2 separate regions of the Homo sapiens genome follow, and region 2 is linked to region 1. The links come from fine-mapping of genetic effects on gene expression. Tissue or cell type: whole blood. Region 1 holds a variant in brackets; the other region holds the start of a gene. All regions are shown on one strand. Distances are between the middles of the regions.

Evidence for each region. PIP is the estimated chance that this variant, and not a neighbour inherited with it, causes the effect.
Region 2: SNED1 starts here. The variant in region 1 is fine-mapped to the expression of SNED1 in whole blood (TOPMed, PIP 0.98).

What each region holds. Positions count from the first base shown.
Region 1 is chr2:240,957,123-240,966,721 of GRCh38, forward strand. CROCC2 (ciliary rootlet coiled-coil, rootletin family member 2) reads left to right here. Exons shown (of 32, transcript NM_001351305.2): 20 at 2,179-2,322; 21 at 6,434-6,651; 22 at 7,344-7,503; 23 at 8,259-8,396; 24 at 8,514-8,871; 25 at 9,103-9,287. UICLM (up-regulated in colorectal cancer liver metastasis) reads right to left here. Exons shown (of 9, transcript NR_033841.1): 2 at 6,867-7,054; 3 at 6,142-6,624; 4 at 2,118-2,296; 5 at 1,955-2,000; 6 at 240-495. Among named protein-coding and RNA genes, the nearest start is that of UICLM, 5.5 kb to the right of the region's middle. RefSeq lists enhancers at 892-1,461, 4,646-5,497, 5,498-6,348. The variant C/T (reference allele first, on the strand shown) is at 3,742.
Region 2 is chr2:240,995,059-241,004,657 of GRCh38, forward strand. It overlaps SNED1 (sushi, nidogen and EGF like domains 1), which reads left to right and starts at 3,560. Exons shown (of 32, transcript NM_001080437.3): 1 at 3,560-3,992. The coding sequence starts at 3,780. RefSeq lists a silencer at 3,192-3,611.

The DNA.
Region 1 (9,599 bases):
TCTCCTTGCCAGGAACAGGTAGGATTGAGGGCGAGGCTGATCGCCAACCCCCAGCTCTCTGCCCTCCCTGGCCACACACACCCCATTAGCTGGGCCCACACCTGCCTCCTGCCTCTGTCCTTCCAGCTCCCAGCATGTTCAGTGACGAGGCCGTTCATTCCCGTACTTGTTGGCTTATTTTAAATTCAGGCGAGCCTTTCCTCCCTGTCCCTGGCAAGGACGCAGGGTTGGACACCTACCTGACTGGCGTTGAATGTATGGTTCAGTGTGCAGTGAACAGAACACAGGCCATGGTGCCAGGCGCGGGAGGCAGCCCCCTTCTCTGCCCATTCTGAACGGGAGCCCTTCTCACTGACTGCACAGAGGCACGCGCAGGCCGCCTGCTGGGGGGCCGGGGCGTCCAGGCAGCGGGGCCTTGGGGGACGCTCGGTGACTCGGAGCCGGGATGGAGGGCTTGTGCCCCATCCCCAGGGCACTGCGCAGCGGGAGAGGGCGCTGCAATGAGGAGGCGGCTGCTGGAGTGTCGCTTCACCTCCTCCTGCCTGATGCCACAACCCGGACTCCTAGTCCCTTCAAGCAGGGCTGCCCAGAGGAGCTCCTGGCAGCCCAGGGGAGACTTGCCCCTCACTCCATGAAGCCCCACCCTGCTCTGTTCCTGCCCCTGAGGCCTGGAGGGTTCCACGGGGCCCAGGAGGACCAAGCTTGGCATCGGGCCTGTGACCATGCCCCTCCCTCCTCCCGACCACTGGCCCAGCAGCTCTCTTGGCTCCACCCCGTGGGCAGGGACCCAGGAAAGCCCTCCTGGGGCCCTGGGAGCTGATGCCTCTGGCTCACAGAGGGGCCTTCTCTGGAGCCAGTGCTGGCTTCTGGAGCCTTCTCTTGAGCTGGCCCTGAGTCTCCCCCGGACTCGGTACCAGGCCTGCCAGCCAGCCGGCCTTCCTGGGGAGCTCGTTAAGGGTTCCTTTGCCACCTCGGCTCAGAAAATGGAAATTAAAACTGTTGAGAGGAGCGGGAGGAGAGGAATGCCGGCCAAGGAGCACCAGGCGCCAGATGACAGGACAGCGTGCGCCCCTAGGCTGAGTCACCACTGCCATCGGGCTCCCAGCCGATGCCCTGTCCCTGAGGCCCTCACAGGGGTATCCTGCAGCCAGGCCTCAGGGGCACCCATCACTGGCAGTGTTGGGGCATGCTGAGGCACAGAGCCATGGCCTAGTCACCCAAGATGGCCCTTCTCAGTCCAGAGAGACCAGAGGGGGTTGTAAAGAATGACGACAGGAGGCAGCAGCATGGCTCCTTTCCCAAGAGCAGGGGGCACAGGCTGCAGGAACCCCCACCCTAGCAGAATCCAGGTGGACAGGAGGGGCTCCAGAGATCTGGCACAGGGGCAGCCATGTGGGCACCTGTGCCCCCAGGAACACAAAGCCAGCTCTGGAGGGAGCCATCCCCCACCAGCCGCCCCCCGCCAGCCGCCTGCTGCTGCCTGGAGGCTTGGTCCAGTCCCCTGAACCCAGGGGTGCAGAGCCTGAGCAGGGCAGGGCTCGGACCCTTCATGTTGAGGACACTGAGGCCCAGGAAGCTGAGACCCCCTGAGCCCCATCTGCCCTGCTGCCGCAACCTGGGCAGGGGTGCAGTGGGGAGGGCCTTGAGAGGAAGCGGGGTGGTGTCCCGAGGGGCCTGGGGCTTGGGGTGAAGAAGGTGGTATTTGTCCATGAACAAGGGGCCATGGGCTGAGCCTGGGGCCTCCTGGCCCGAGGATCCCTGCTGGCCACACTGCCCCAAGGCCCGAGAGGACACCTCGGGTGGTGTGTGCGACAGGGAGCCGACTCCAGCTGAGCTCAGTCCCAAATGGAGGGTAGAGCTGCCCAGTGTGTGGTGGTCCCTGTAGGGATGGGCCCTGCCCCAGGGCGCAGGCTGAGCTGAGGGGCTGCCTCCTGCTGTGTCCGTGGGCACTCACACATCACAGCTGTCAGGGGCCGTGGATGTCTCCTCATCCCAGCAGCCTGTTTGACAGTTTAGGAAACCAAGGGCCAGTTACCCCGGGGCTTGCACGATCAGCAGGACCCGGCTCCCCCTCCCAGGCCACTGCAACACCTCTCTCTCCAGGGTCCTGGCCTTACCTCACCCTCCACTGCTGGGCCCAGCTCCCTGGTGCCACCGTGGGCTCCCTTCTCCCCGCAGGCCACCATCAGTGCCACGACTGAGGAGCTGAAGGCCCTCCAGGCCCAGTTTGAGGATGCCATCACAGCCCATCAGAGGGAGACCACGGCCCTACGCGAGAGCCTCCAGGACCTAGCGGCTGAGCGGGGCGATGTGGAGAGAGAGGTGAGAGGCAGGGCTGGGGGGCTCCTGGGGATGCCAGAGGACAGGAGAAAGCAGGGCAGGTACCAAGAGAGGAGAGAGTGGGGGTGCCAGGAGGAAAGAGAGGCTGTACCACAGAGAAGGGAAGAGTAGTCCCTGGGACTAGGAAGAGGCAAACAGCCATAGGGGCATGGGACAAGGGGCCCTCACACCACGCACTAAGCCAAGCCCAGGCTCTCAGGGCAGATGAAATGGTGCCTGGCCCAGGCCATTGGCTAAGGGAAGCTGACACCAGTTTTCAGGGGAAAGAAGGCATCATTTCTAAGCCTCCTGAAGGGGTGAGTTTGACTTCAGGGTGAAAGTGGGCCTGGCTGAGTCAGGTGGACTTGGCTGGGTCACGGTGCCAGCTGAGTGGGAAGGGAGCTCCCTGGAGGCTGCCGTGGGTCCCGACGCGGCTCCTGCTGCCCTGCTTGTCCTGGGAAGGTGCACAGCACACCTGCCAGCTCCCAGGGCACTGGAGGGGCACACCTGCCGCTGGGAGGGCCAGCATGTGAAAGGGTGGCCAGAGCCACGCAGCCAAAGGCTCCAGGAGTCCAGCCGGCCCCCTCGTTCCACGCACAGTTAAGAAAGTGGAGTCAGGAAGGGCCTGACTCTGGAGGCACTGGGGCAGCTGTCGCCTCCCAAAGCCTTCCCGAGAGACAGGCATGACCTGGGGCGAAGGGGAATTCGGACCCTTGGCCAAGAGGCCCATCGAGCCATCCACTGAGGCACGGGGAGGCCCTAGACAAGCTGGGCTCTGCCCACACAGCAGGAGGCGCGGACTTCACTGGGCTGGACACTAAGGTCGGGGGAGGCTGGATTTGGGGCAGCAGGCAAGAAAATAAGTGGGTTAGTGGAGATTTCGGGGTGTGCCTGGGCCTGGCCAAGGGCCCGAGGTTGACACGGAGGCCCCCAGGAGCCACATGATGGTGACGTGGGGTGGGGGACAGTCTTGGGCAGGGGGCAAGAGTGGCCAGGGCTAGGCTCACCTGGGCTCAGCGGGCAGGCAGATTGGAGAGGCATTTCTGAGGGGGGTTGGCAGGACGGGGGGACGCCTGTGTGTGGCAAGGGCAGGAGGGCACGCGGATCTGGGCTAGAGGAGGGGAGGGTCAGCTGGAGCCCCAGCGGGGCCCACGGGGACGGGGCGACCTCGCACACTCCCTGGGCTGCTTGCCAAGGCTGGAGGCTGCGCAGCTGACCTGGTGCTGGAGCGAGCGGCTGGCGCACACCACGCCCCAGAGGCCGGGCCGGCCGGCAGGGGAGAGTGAGAAGAGGGGCTCAGCCCTCCCCAAGCACCCCCGAGAGGCAGGCTGAGAGAGGAAGAGAACATGATTTAACATGACCGGCTGTTTACATTGGCCCCAAGGAGAAAGGTCTCCTTTCAACAGATTTCAAAGTCAGGCC[C/T]GGTCAGCGACCACACGGGGAAGCAAAACGAGATTGCAAAACTGGGGGCAGCAGGGGGAGGGGGAGGGGGAGGTGTGGAGAGGGTGGGGGTGCATTGGTTCTGCTGGCCTCAAGGAAGGGAGTGCAGGCCTCATGGGAAGGTCAGGCTCTCAGAGGAGCAGAACAGAGCAGGGTGCCCAGAAAGGGAGTGGGGGCTAAAAGCTGAGGACGGTTAAGGGGGACAAGAGGAACAATCACAGAGAAAAGCAAGCAGAGCCCGTGCAGGCGCCAGGCTGGCCCAGGGTCACCATGGAAACCATAACTTTTTCACAACCTTTAAACTGGAGGAACTTCCAGTCTCTCAGACCCTGCCTGAGGTCCACACGTGTGCACACACATGCATACACATCATCCACGCAGTGAGACCACACACACCGGTGTACACTTGACACTCAGAGTGGTGTGTGCATGCTGAATGCAGACACACAAGCCTCACACACTCACACACACTCACGCTGGAATCACATATGGACACCACACAGTGCACACAGGCGTGCACAGAAACGTGCACCAAGCACACACACGCATGTGTGCGCACACATGCACATACGTAGTGCATGCACAGGCATACAGACGTGCACACACATACATGCACACACGTATGCACACCACATACAGAGTGGACACCTGCACTGGCTCACACACACACACTCATCACACTCACACACTCATCACACATACACTCACACACACACACGCACTCACACATACACTCATGACACATGCACACGCTCATCACACACGCTCATCACACACACGTACACACACACGTAGTGCATGCACAGGCATACGGACGTGCACACACATGCATGCACACACACGTATGCACACCACGTACAGAGTGGACACCTGCACTGGCTCTCACACACACACACTCATCACACACACGCACTCACACATACACTCACATACACTCACACACACGCACGCACACATACACTCATGACACACACGCACACACTCATCACACATGCTCATCACACACATGTACACACACACGTAGTGCATGCACAGGCATACGGACGTGCACACACATGCATGCACACACACGTATGCACACCACGTACAGAGAGGACACTTGCACCGGCCCACACACACACTCATCACCCACACACACACACACACACGCACGCACACACGCGCACACACATACACTCACACTCACACGCACTCACACTCACACACACACACACACTCTCACCCTCCCCTGCTTTCCCTCCACAGCCCCTCCTCCCTGCAGAGCTCTGGAGCTGCCTCCCTGTAGGAGATTTTTAAAAGAGGCTGTTTATACAATTTCTAGCAAAGAAATAATTATTATAATCACATTAAGTGATTTGGCCGTAAAATTCCTGTAAAAGGGATGGCTGTTCTCATGAGGCAGAGGGAGCGGGTGGGGTGGGGGCGGGAGTGGGGGCAGGCCCTCCCCTGCATTTGTTTTGCTTGTTTTCATCTCCTCTGCGCTGGGAAATGAAAACAGTTTCTTTTATGATGCATGGGCCCTTTTGCTGGTCCTTGACCTTCTGGGCGGGTTTCTGCTGAGCTCGGCGGAAAATGCTCAGCACGGTCATGGCTCCCACGTGTGGGGGTGGAGGGGAGCGGAGGGGAGGCTCTGGCCCTTCCCAAAAACAGAACAACAATAACAGCGGCAGCCTCGGGAGCCAGGCCGGTCGGGGGCCTGGACAATATCCCGTGAAAACAGCCAGAAAGAGGGGTTTGCTTTTGTCAAGCCAGCGACTTGACATCGCGGAGTCTTTGTGGCTTCCATCTCTGGGCATGCCCCGCTGGCTACCTCCGCCTCCTCCTCTGGGACACACGAGAGCCGGAATGGAGCCTTCTCCAGGGTTTCTGGTCAGGCCCAGAGCTCAGACCTGGGAGGCAGGAGACTGGGCGCCAGGGCCGAGCCCCAGCAAGTCCCCACCCCCAGAGCGTAGGTGCTGGGGAGGGCCTTCCTGCCAGGCTGCAACTGTCCTCCGGACCCCACCCCTGGGTTCTCCCGGGCACTGTGAGATGCCTGGTGTCCGGAGCGGGAAACCAAGACCCTCCTCCCACTGCCCCCCCATTGCCAGAGATCCTCCTCCCACTGCCTCCCATGCCAACGGGGGAAGGAAGGCCAAGGGAGTGGGTGAGCCCCCACTGTGGCAGAGTCACTGTGCCGGGGTCACTGGGCCAGGGTCACTGTGCCAGGGTCAGGCCCAGCCTGCCTGCTGAGGCTGCTGCCCACACTAGGACAGGCAGCGGCCTGGGCACCACACTGTCACCTAAGGAGAGGACTAGACGCCGGGGGCAGGAGGTGGGAAGGGCCCCAGGCAGTGACAGTGCAGACACGTGTGCTGAGCCGCATCCCAGGTAGGCCTTGCTTACCAGTGGTCAGCGTCCTGGGGGTCCAGAGAGGCCGCAGCGTGGGGCCGGGCCCAGGGGCTCAAGGTGGGGTCTTCTGGGCTCTTAGGCTGGCCCTGCCTCAGCCCGTGGAAGCCGCCCTGCAGCCTCCGCAGCACTAGGGATTGGTGGCTCCATGGGGTGAGCAAAGCGCATGGGGACCAAGTTGGGCAGGGCACCTGTGCCTGCCACACCATGTCAGAGGCCACAGGCCCCTGTGGCTATCCCTGGAGCAGTGGTCCCCAGCGGGCCTCTAGAGCTGAATGGTCCTCCCCAGGCTGAGAGGCTGCGGGCACAGCTGACCGTGGCCCAGGAGGGACTGGCCGCACTGCGCCAGGAGCTGCAGGGCGTCGAGGAGAGCCGGGAGGGGCTGCACAGGGAGGCCCAGGAGGCCCGCCGGGCGCTGAGTGACGAGGCCCGCGAGAAGGACGTACTGTTGCTTTTCAACAGCGAGCTGCGGGCCACCATCTGCAGGGCCGAACAGGAGAAGGCCAGGTATGGCGGCCACCCAGGAGCAGCTGGGGGTGCCCTGCAGCCTGCTGCCCACCCAGGCCGTAGGGAGGATGGGGCAAGGGGGCTAGGCAGGGGCGTCCTGTTGACTTGGGCCCCACTGATGGTGGGGTAGACATGCCAAGCAGGCCTCCCGCTGCCCAGTCCAAGAGGTCTGCAATGCTGGCCAGTGCGAGGGATGGCTGAGGACATGGACACACCTGTCCCTGCCCACAGGGAGTTCCCATCCAGCAGGCAAGATAGGTCACAGGTGGCCTCCAGGAGGTGGTGCAGAGCTGGGGAGCAGAGGGAGGCCAACGGCCTGGCTGGGGCTCTAGAAAGGCCCCTGTGGGGCAGCTGGGCAGGATGGCACAGCCCTCACAGCAGGTGGCAGAGGTACCAGGCTAGGCTGGATGTTGAGCGTCCGGGAGTGTGACAGAGAGGGGGAGACAGGGAGGGATGAGGTGAGGAGGGGCTGAAGAGGTGGATAGTGGACAGGGGCCATGCGGCCGGCACCGGGACCTGGGTGGACATATGTCTGTAAGGTGACAGGGAACCCTGCAGAGGCTGAGTTTGAGGACACTGTGCAGAGTCAAGACTGGGGCCAGTGCCTCACTAGGGGAGGCAGAGACCTGCTGGGCAGCTGTGCTGGCCCCACCAGGAGGTGCGGGGGCCCCAGCCTGTGGCACCCTCGTCAGTTTTAAGCGGTCCAAGGAGGAGAAGGAGCAGAAGCTGCTCATCCTGGAGGAGGCCCAGGCGGCGTTGCAGCAGGAGGCCAGTGCACTGCGGGCCCACCTGTGGGAGCTGGAGCAGGCAGGGGGGGACGCCCGTCAGGAGCTCCGGGAACTCCACAGACAGGTAGGGCGGCAGGGAGGGGTCAACATCCAACCAGGCACCCTCCCGCCTGGTGGGTCCCGGCTCCTCCCAGGGGAGCCCCCAGCCCTGGCCTTGCTGCCGCCTTTGAACCACTCTGTCCCCAGACTTTGGGCCACGCCCTGCTCAGGCTCACAGGGTCCCTGGTTGGGTCTGTCCCCATGGGGCACAGATGACAAGACTGGAGAGGGCAAAACCAGGAATGCTTTAGCGAGGAGGAAGGGAACCATGCCCAGCAGCACACGGAAGTATCCTACATGCAACACCTTCCGGCATGCACAGCAGCACACGGAAGTATCCTACATGCAACACCTTCCGGTGGCGCTCGGGAACTCAGGCAGGCTAGAGGGGAGGCCTGGCCTCTGCAGGGCAGGGTGCTGGCAAGCCGGGTCCCCCCAAGGCCTGGCTCCCTCCTGTAATGGCGGCCTCGGGGCAGTTGGGTCCAATGCACCCCAGCCACTGCCCACACTCCCTAATCAGTGCCCACCCCGCCCCACCTGAGCCTCCTCCTTGTCCCAGGTCCTCCAAGGAGGTTCCGAGGAGGTCCCAGGTAGGTGTCTACAGAGTGGCTGAGGGTGACAACTCCCAGGGCAAGGTCCTTTGGGGCACCTTAGCCCAAGCCTCCCTAAGTGTGGCCAGCTGCCCTCAAGGGACGTGTGAGCGGAGGCAGGAGGCAGGGAGGCTGCCTGGGTTCCAGCACAGAGACCAGTGACCCTGTCCGTGCGGCCCCACGCTCCCAGGTGAGGACACTGAAGGCCGAGAACCAGAGGAGGAGTGGAGAGGCCCATGAGCTGCAGGCGCAGTGCTCGCAGGAGGTGCTGGAGCTGCGGAGGCAGGCAGCCAAGGCAGAGGCCAAGCACGAGGGTGCCCGGAAGGAGGTGGGAGGGCTGCCTGTGGTCAGAAGGGAAGGAGCTGGGCGTCGGGGAGCAGAGGGAGGAGGCCCACCCCACTTCCTCACTGTCTCCCACGGGCGCACCCCAACATCCCTCCTACAGGTCCTGGGATTGCAGAGGAAGTTGGCAGAGGTGGAGGCCGCAGGGGAGGCCCATGGACAGCGGCTCCAGGAGCACCTCCGTGAGAGCCGGGGGGCTGAGCAGACCCTCCGAGCAGAGCTGCACAGTGTCACCAGGAAGCTGCAGGAAGCCAGTGGTGTGGCTGATGCTCTCCAGGCTCGCCTGGACCAGGCCTGTCACCGAATCCACAGCCTGGAGCAGGAGCTGGCCCAGGCTGAGGGTGCAAGGCAGGATGCGGAGGCCCAGCTGGGCCGGCTGTGCTCCACGCTCCGCCGTGGCCTGGGGCTCCAGAGACAGAGCCCGTGGGCCTCCCCGGAGCAGCCTGGTTCCCCCACCAAAGGTCAGAGTCCTCAGTGGAGGCAGGCGGGCCCCTCTCCCAGCTCAGTCCCTGGCCTGGCACCTCTCTTTCAGGCCTCACAACTCACACAGTGAGGGACTCGGACAGGCAATTGTAGGAACCTGTGGCCGTCTCCCCAACCTCCCATGGCTGGGGCAGCAGAGAGGAAAGGGGAAGGGCGTGTATCTGTCACTGTGTTCCTGTCCACGACCCCTCCGCTGTCACCTCCCGCAGGCTCCGACAGCTCCCAGGCTCTCCCTGGGCAACAGGGTACCAGCCCCCCAGCCAGGCCCCACTCGCCCCTCCGATGGCCCTCGCCCACACCCGGAGGCCGCAGCTCAGAGCTCATGGATGTGGCCACCGTGCAGGACATCCTGCGGGACTTTGTGCAGAAGCTCCGGGAAGCCCAGCGGGAGCGGGTAATGGGGGCTGGGGTCCTCCCGCCCACGGCGGCACCCCCCGGGGGTCTCTGGGAAGAACACCTGCTGTCCATCCATCCGCGCGTCCCTGGGTCTGAGGGTCAGTGTCCAGGCCGTCCTGTTTGTTGTGATAAACACCAGCACCACCATGGCCCCCAAGCCCAAGTGCCTTGGGTGGCTGGAGGCCGCCCCCTTCCTTATACCAGGCTGAAAAGCCCCTGGAGCCAGGCCCTGCTGTGACACCCACCAGGGCCCAGGGTAGGGCATTCTGCAACTCATGCCACCCCTGAAGAGCTGCCGGGGCTGGGCAAC
Region 2 (9,599 bases), 38 kb after region 1:
TCACTAAAAACGTCTCAGAGCATGGTTTTTTTGCTGCGGAAGCTCCGGGGCATCGGAGGACCCTGGGCCTGAGTGTCCCTCCACTGCTGGCTGTCCCTGCCATCCTGGAGCCCACAGAGAATGGGGCTCTGTCCTGTCTTGGGCACTCAGGAGATGGACAAGGCTCTCAACGGGAGGCAGGGTCTCGTCATCCCCAGGACAGGGAGAGCCGATGCCTGAGCCCACGCAGCAGTGAACATCCTGGGAAGGAAGTGTTGAACCCCAGTCCCATCGTTTCCCTAAGAGCAACCACAGAAGTCCCGTCATGGGAGTCAATGTGTGTGCGGCTCCGTGTGCATGAGAAGAGGAGGTACAGGGCAGGCTGCATGGCCCCCACACTCCCTCAGGGCCAACTGCACCAAGACCCCAACCAGCCACACAGGACAGTGACCAGGTGAGCAGGTGGAGCGGCCCTTGGTCCCTGTGACCTCCTGGCCTCATTCCGGAGCATGTGGAGGTTTACTTGGGATCAGCGCTTCTGGGGCAGGGGACCTGCACTCCACCTGCCACTTCTGGGAGAGAAGGAGAGAAAGTTAGGGTGGGCTACAGCCAGCCAGCCCCTGCCCCTGGCAGCTCAGGCCTGAACCCCCAGGATCTTCCACCCTGTGAAGACCAAACAGGCCCAGCCAACCAGGTGCAGGTTGGGGAGGGCACCCCCACCTTGGCCTGCGTGGAGCCCCGAGTCCTGGGGCATCCTGAGGGCAGCTCCCGGGGCACCCCATCTAAATTGCACACACGCTCAGGCCCTAAATTAAAATGTCACAGGCCGGTTGGGGAGGCTCGGGTTTCCTGGCCACAGAACATGAGCCTGCTTGATAAAACAATTTTGGTTTTGATAAATGTGGATTTTCTGTGGCAGAGACAAAGGCGCCCTTGAGTCCAGAGGGGAGCCTAAAACAGCACATTGCTGAAAAGTATTTCCTGATAATATTTTTAGCACCTGAGAAAAACATTTTTTTTTCTCTTTTTTGCCTGCAGAGTTGTGTTGTTTTTTTTTTGTTTTTTTTTTTTTTAATGAAATGTAATGCCCAGCAGCAGCGGGGCCTTTTGTTAACCCCCAGCTCCCCGGGCCCGGCTGAAAATCTGCACAGGGTGCAGGCCGAGGCTGGTCAGCAGGGTACAGGCCCGAGGAAGTGTGGCCTCTCTGGGCCATGAGCAGGGTCTGGCCCACTGCCAGCCACGCCCCAGGCCCATGAGCTCTGACTCTCTGGGACGAGGACGGGCCTGAGCGTTTCCAGCACTGCTCAGCGACCCCCGTGAGGCCCACCAGCCCACCCGCCTGAAGAAACAGGCCTCCACTCGGTGCAGCCACTGAGTGCCACTGTGTGCCCCAAGGTGCCCTGGGCGGCCCTGCCCCCAAGTTGACCCAAACCCAGCCCAGAAATGGGTTGTTACCCAGGTCCCTGTCTTGTGTGCTCAAGAGAAGGTCAGCAGTGGGGAGAAGGGCGCCTGGCCTGGGCAGCTGGCTGGGAGGCAGCACCCCAGGCTGGGCTCTGAGAGCAGAGCAGGAGCATGTGGTGGGAAGTGGATGGGTAGTAGGGACAGGGCAGGAGGTGGGCCAGCCCTAGTGGGGGTCAAAGCCTCACGTCCCCATGACAACACCTCTTCAGCGGAGAAATCCTGCCCTGGGGTTGGCACTGCCGCCTCCCACCTTCGCAAACTCACCGGAGGGGCCTTCCAGCCAGGCCCCAAATGCACTGAAAAGAGGGTAGAGGGCTGCCAGGTTTTTCTAGAAAAAAGACAAATAGAAAAGCGTTCTCCCTGATTCCCGCCACGGTGACGCCTGGCAGCTCTGTTCCCAACGCTGCTACATGGGGCCTTGTCCTGACTCCACGGCCTGTGCCAGCCAGAGGTGGGAGCAGCCCTCCCTGACCAGGGAGGCCAGGGCTGGGCTGAGGAAGGGGTTAAAGCATGTTCTTGAGGCCCCACGTATGGGCATATGCTGCCTCCGTGCATGTGAATAAGTATGCATGTGTGCGTGGACGTGTGTGCATGTGCGTGGAGACATGTCTCTCCTTGCCAGGCTCTCACCGAGAGCCGGCCTCAAGTAGGGATTCTACAGTTCCACGCCCTCTCTGGTGCCTCCCTCCAAAGACAGGAGGCCTTGACCTTTCTGGCCCTGGAACCATGGCTGTGCTGCTGTCCTGGAGCTCTGAAAGCTGGGACGGTGACCTAAGGGCTAACTGCGGGACAGAGCCCTTCCCCTCCCAGGCCCAGTTTGCCTCTCTGCAAACAGAATTGCCACCCCATGCAGGGTGGGAGAGGCGCCAGGGGCAAGCTTTCAGGAGGTGCCAGTGCAGGGTCAGCTCCTCCTTAACAATTCTGCACCCGGCCCTGACACCAAGTCTAAAGGGTCATGAACCTCTGAGTGAAAACACCAAGTGCAGGATCTGTGAGAACCGGCAACACCCAGTCACACGCAGAGAACCCTCCGCTGCTTCTTAAAAATAACATTGACTGTGCCTGGCTCTCACTGAAAAACAACACGTGCTCACTTGAGATATTTCAGAAGATACAAACGCAAAGACAAACAAAAAACCACCCAGCACCTCAGTGGTAGATGCAGTTACCATCAGCCCGGCCTTTCCTGCTTGTCTTCGAGGGGTGCACTCTTATCTTTGGGGGCCCCAGTGTGGCACGCAGCCAACACCACCCAACACCAGGATCTAAGAGAAGAGACCACGGTGGGCCGGGTGAGTTCCAGGAATCAGACCCTGCCATGGGCCTGGGGACATAGAGGTGGTCCCGGCTGAGGCCCTGAGGAAGGACAGACAGGCAGCCCAGGCCAGCAGCCCAAGAGACAGGGGGCAGGGCTGGCAGGCCACAGGGTGGGGACCCTGAATTCAAATACTGGGACTCAGAGTCCTGCCCCCACCTGCCAAGGCCGGTGTCATGCACGCACTTGCCCCCAGGGCCTGAGTGGGTCAGTCTTCCCCACGGAGGGTTTGCTTTACCCAGGGGTCGCCCCGAGGTCCCGAGCCTCCCAGGAATTTCTCCTGATGCGGCCACGCAGATGCAAACACTTTGTTCCATGCCTCCTAGTCTCCGGCCCGGGCTCTTCCTCACACAGACCCAGGCAGGGAGTGGGCTCCGGGGTTAGTCTGCCCCTGTGGCTGGAAGCCTGGCGTCCCCATGCTCAGGGCTGGGAAGGGGGCAGCACGGAACGGGTTCATTCAGGCACTGCCTGGCCAGGGTCCCCTCCCGCCCCCCGCGTGATGACACGCCTTCAGGGCGGGCCCAGCGTCTCAGGCCTTAGGGACACAGGTCTGTCCCAGGACGGCACTGAGGGCCCAGGCGCCTCCACCAGGGTAGGGACCCAGGGCGGAGCATGGCCCCACCACAGGGCGCGCGCCCGCAGAGCCCTCACCTTGCCTGTGCCCACGCCAGGGGACTGAGCTCCCCGCGCGCCCGCGCCCTCCCACGGGGCCTGGCGCTTTAAGAGACGCCCGATTTGCATGGCCCCGCCCCCCCGAGTGACCGCCGGGCTGGATATTTAAATCGTGGCCCCAGGGGCGGGGCTGGCCCCGAACGCGGTCCCGCCCGGCGCTTTCCTCTGCGGAGCTGCGGCGAGAGCGCGGCCCGGCCGAACGGGCGCGGGACGCGGAGCCCCCGACGGCGCGGCCAGCGGGCGCGCCCGCGCTCCCCGCACCCCGCCTGGCCCTGCCGGCCACCCCCGCGCGCAGCCTAGTCCCCCAGCGCCCTGCTCCGCCAGCGCCCCGTCCCGCCCGCACACCTCCGCGATGCGGCACGGCGTCGCCTGGGCGCTGCTGGTGGCCGCGGCCCTGGGGCTTGGGGCGCGCGGGGTGCGCGGCGCGGTGGCCCTTGCCGACTTCTACCCGTTCGGCGCCGAGCGCGGCGACGCCGTCACCCCCAAGCAGGACGACGGCGGCTCGGGGCTGCGGCCGCTCTCGGTGCCCTTCCCGTTCTTCGGTGCCGAGCACTCCGGACTCTACGTGAGTAACCCCCGGGCTCGCGGGGCGCCCGGGAGGGGAGGGAGCTGCGCCCCGGCCGCTGCCCGCCGGGCCCGGACTCCCGCCGCCGCCGCCAGCCACTTGGCACCGGGGCGGCCCGAGGTGGAATGAGGACAGCGCTTCCTCCTCGGCGGCCAAGGCCGGACAGCGGCCCGCGGGAGAGGCGCGCGGGCGGGGCGGGGGCGGCAGCCGCCGGGCACCGAGGCGGGGGCGAGTGGAGCGCGGCGCCCCGGCCCCTGCCAGACCTGCCGAGCGCGTCTTCCCGGCGCCTGATTCCCAGGGGAGAGCAGGGGTCCTGGTACTGCCCTGGTTTTCACACATGGCAATGTGGCCGTGGGCACGGGCTTCCCGGGCCTCAGTTTCCCAAGTGGGGCGCCGGGCCTGCGAAGGTTGCAGCCCCTCCTTGGGCCATTTCAGCCCCGCCCCCCGTGGACGCCAGTGCGGCCCAGAGCCAGGAGGCTGGACCCCTTGCCCAGGCGCTCAGGGCAGGGCCTGCTTCTTCGCTGACCCTCCTAGGCGGGCTAGCAACAGGCTTGCCCCTCCCTGCCGTCCTCTCCGCAGTCTGGGGGCTGGCCGCTCAGGCTCAGACTCTCCAAACAGGACTCCCAGTGGGACTCCTGGGGCCAGGGACTCATGACAGCAGGCTCAGCTCAGCTGAAGGAACAGGCCCGAGTGCCGGTTCTGTCTCCATGGCTCCCAGAGTGTGACCCCAGGCCAAGCCCTTATGGCAGCCCAGGGAATGAAATGCACCTGGTAACTGCATGGAGCACTCGCCCTGAGTAGGCCACGGTGCACTGGTACCTGGTGGTTCCCTGAAACACCCCAGATCATATCTAGAAAACTGCTGGGCCAGCCTCAAGTAGAGTCCCCTCCAGCTCCGTCACCACGGCCACCTCCACCATCAGCCCTCTCATACCCTCGCCCACCTCCAGCCTCAACCCACTGCCAGCCACATCGCCTCTGCCATCTGTGCTGCCCGGAGTAACACCACCTGTACTGCCAACTCCTCCGTCAACACCACCTCCTTCAACCCCACCACCAGCAGCACTGCCTCCACCACCACCTTCCCCATGGTCCCCAGCTTCCCGTCGTCACCATCCACATCCTCTGCATGGTTGTCATCATCCCTCCCCACCTCCATCCACAGGGCCTCCTCCACCACATGCCCTCTAGTGCGCCTCCCACCCCACAACTGCCAACACCATCCACAGCGCCCACTGCGTTTTCCACACCTGCTCAGGAAGGCCTCCCCACCTCGGTGGCAGCACTGGGTGACCTGACTGGTGGGAGGGGCAGCCATGCTGTCGGTGCTACCCCCTGAAAGTCCCTCTGGACCGGGACTTGGACAGAGGAACGGGACTGACTCCTGGAAGTACGAAGTGGGTAGGACAGAATGGTGCTCAGCGTTGGCCCGAGCTGGAGGAGGCCTGTCCACTTGAGGTATGGGACACTCACATTGGCACCATCCGAACAGAACTCAAGAGGCTCCTTAAGCATTTGGGCCAGGCTCAGCTTTCCCACTCACAGTCACAGGTGAAAATATTATTAAAATGGTTAACCCACTTAACAGCCTCACCAAAAACATCTGCCCTTGCCAGAGCAACTAGGGGAAACAGCTCTAACGTGGGAAGATCTGCTAGGAGAACTAGGGTTTCGTCAGAAATGAACCTTCTGGCTGCTAACAAAACATTTATCTCCATCGGAGCTTTTTCCTGAAACAAAGATATTATTTGAAAACCATTTGCCGATGTGGACACAGTGCCTGCAGTGCACTTCACCTTTCTGTTTGCTCAGCAGGAGGCTTGAGGCTGCGTTGCCCAGGACACCTTGCCTGAAGTAACTGTGCGGACTCTGTGGTCAAGCAGGGAGAGAGAAAGGGGTGCTTGGCAGCAGGTTAGGGCTGAAGCCAGGTGGAAAGAAGGGAGGCATTTGTTCTGAAGGAAGTGGACCTGCCTGGGGCCTCCCACGCCCACCCAGGCCGAGCGGACCCTCTTCTGAGGCCCCTGGCTCTGGCCCTTGTCCAGCTCCAGTCTATAGGGGCCTCGTGTCTGCTGGCCCTGGACTCAGACTCCCATGTCAGGCCCAGCCAGGACCCTCCAGCCCCCATCCCACTGCAGTGACCTCTGCGCTCCTCCGCCCCCAGCCTGTCGCTTGACCAAGAGTAGGCTTGTTGTCTGAATGAATGAATGTGCCTCCCTCTGACACTGCCTGCAAGTCACAGGTAGAAATTAGAAGTGCTCTTGCATGAGATGGGTGCTTCTTCTGTCTTCATCAGAAATAGCACATGGATTACTGCCCTAGCAAGACAGCTCTGCCACACATGGAGTGGCCCCCTTTCCAGAAGGGACCCATTGTTTTGCTTCTTTCTCATGTCATAGTAGCTGTATGTGTGTGGTAAGTCGTAAGGCTCTGAAAAGTGTTGAAAGTGCATTTTATTGCTAAGGTTCTACACACAGACAAAGATAATGCAGCCGAGGAGCGTGGCGCGCCGAGGAGTGTGGCGTGCTGAGGAGTGTGGCATGCTGCCGCTATCCTGCCATGCAGGAACTGCCAGTGTCTGCATTAAGACGGAGCTTGCCGCGGTCTGTGGGGCTTATGCAGGTGGAGTGGTTTCCTAGGGGCAGGTGCAGGGAATGAGAGACGAAATCTTCCTGGTGCCCCCTACACTGAAGCTCCTGGCTCCAAGCACTGCCCCCATCCACAGCATGGTCTCTGGGCCATGGGAGGATCTCAGTTTCTTTGGCATCAGGACCCCCGACAGAGCCCTGAGCAGAGGCAGGGAGGATTTGAGGGTCAAGAGTGGGTGGTGCCCTGCAGAGCCCGCAGGCAAGAAGGAGGAATGTGGACAGTCAGACTGACCCTCGCTGGTGCTGGCTAAACCCCCACTCTGTGCCCTGAGGCTTCGTGCCACACCGCAAGTCTGCTGGCTCTGGCTCTGCACAACATTACCATCCAGGCACAGTCCCGGCCCTACCCCTCCCAGAACACGGAGCCCAGGGCAGCTGCTCTGGTGTGGGAGTTCACATGCAGCCTGTGACCTTTGCCTGGTCATTTCCTCCCTGAGCCTCTGTCTCCCCATCTGTGTGGTGAAGCTCCCCCATCAGGTCATACCTGTGACACACCCCATCACTGTCACGGTTGTGTGGTCGCCAGCTCCAAGCCATCTGGAAAATCCACCCTGACCCACAGGGACTGTCTCAGTGGGACCGAGGCCTGCGCATGAGTGGATCTGGGAGCAGACATGTGGGGAGAAATCACTGCCATCTCTGCTCTCTTCTGAGCTCATGGAACACCCCAGCAAATGCAGGAGCCCCTTGGCTGGGAGGAGGGTCCTGGGCTTCCCCTTGGCTGCCCTATTCACTGAGGTTCCCGGGCTGGCCCACCCCCTGCTATGGGCTTGGCCAAGGTGGTCCTGCCCCTCATCAGCATGCCCTTCTTGCTGCTGCCTGGGTGTGACGGAAGCAGATGGAAGGGGATCCTGGGGAAGTGGAATGGGGCTGGAGTCGAGGAGGATGCTGGAGTGAGAGAGCCTGATGACTCCAGGTCAAGGCCATGAGCCCAGGACAGCTGTGATCTGCCTGGACCTCACAGGCAGCCCCTGAGAGGATGGAGCAGGACGTCATGCCCAGTGCAGATGAGGAAACCGAGGCTCAGAATGCAGATTCAGGGGCCTTCAGACTCCTGCGTCCAGCTGCCTCTTACTGTGCCACCCCAAACTCAGTGGGACCCAAACAGAAGTCCTGCTTCCTCCCTGGCGCCCACCCATCTCCATGAATAAACCCCTGAGAGCCTCCCCAATGCCTCCCTCCTCTCCCTCACCCTCCACGTCAGCAGCAGCTCCGCCTGCCTCTCTACTTGGACCACTTCCCAGCTGTCCATCCCCACTTGCCTGGACACCTGCAGCACCCCCTTGCTGACCTCCAGCTCTTGGCCTTTCCCTCCAGCCTGCCCTCCTCTGTGCAGAGTGACCAAGGGAGCCATACAAAACACCAGTGGGATCCTGTCTCTCCTCGCCAGAATCCCCGCTACGCTTCCCTGCCCCCCTCCGCCCTCCCCCGGGCCCCCCGCTCAGGCACTCCCCCAGCCCCACCCTCTGTGCTCACTGCAGCTTGTTGGTTCTGACCTCAGCTGGGTTGCTCCTTAGTTTTCTTGTTTGGGAGGTGTTGGGATGTGCACCCCATGAAGGCAGGGACCACATCCATCCTCATGCCACCATTCTGGTGTTGGGCTCAGAATAGGCCTCAGACGACAGCCTGGGGCTGCAGTGGTGGTGGTGCCCTGGTGAAGGACTCTCTCTTCCACCCCTGCTGAGGCCAGAGGATGCATGCAGCAAGATGCCTGCACCCTGAGCAGTAAGTCCTCCTGTGCCACATCCACATGGTGGGCTCATGGTCTTGGCCACCAGCACATTTCTGCACCGTGTGTTCCCCAAAGCAGAAGCAGTCCCACCTTCCCTGACAGGGTGAGCCTTAGCCTGGGAGTCAGCTTTTCCACACAGAGATGCAGGACCTGCACACTTCAGCCTCAGCCCACAGCCGACTCCCTCCCAGGACTGGCCTGACCCATGGCACAGGCACAGCTGTTGGAACATGGTAGTGTGGTAGGGGGTCCTGGCTGCATGCTGGGCCCCATAAGGAAAGTCTCTGTCTGCACTGCCCCACCTCTGCAGGTGACCTGCTTAGAGAAGAGACTCACAGGGAAGACAGGTCAGTTTGTGTGATACTGACATGAAGTGTTATCTGTGACACTTCTGTGTGTGATGGGCCACGAGAAGCCATAAGGCTGCACACAGGAGCAGCAATTTGTAAAGGTGACCAAAAAAATGTTGGTTATCATTTATACTGCCCTCTGCCTTCTAACATCTCTGGTTTCTGATGAGCCCTTTCTTGGCTGAGTGAGCTGGAATAGGGCTGGAAGCCCCTGGGCTGGACAGGGCCAGGCTGTCCTATGTGAGGAAGGAGAGAAGCTGATGCATGTATGGAGGGGAAGATCCTGGAGTGGGGATGAGCCTGGGGGTGAGGCTGGCCTCTGCTTGAGGCACAAAATGATCCCCACATCCCACCAGGGGAGCCATGAAGAAAGGAGATGTATATAGGTAGTGGGCACAACACTGATAAAACTGCAGTCTGAGCATTTGTTGTGGCTTCTTGTTCTGGCTTCCTGTGAAATCTTCAGCAAAACCCTTACCACACCTTAATGACTGTGGCCTTGATTGTCTTTCTTGTAAATGCTAAAAAAAAGAAGTGTAGTACTGATTTTTTTTAATCCAGCCTGACAAATCTCTTCCTTTTAATTAGAGTGTTTTAGACCATTTACATTTAATGTAATTATCAATATGGTTGAATTTTAACCTATCATCTTCCTATTTGTTACATCTGTTCTCTATAGTTTCTTCTTTTGGATTTTTAAAAATAATTTCATATTATCTATACTATTGGCTTATTACCTACACCTCTGATTTTATTTTTTTGTGATTATTCTAGATTTAAAACACATTTTTAACATAGTTTACCTTCAAATAATATTATACTCTTTCAAGTATGATATAATAATCTTATAACAGCATACATCCATTTTCCTTCTGGCCCT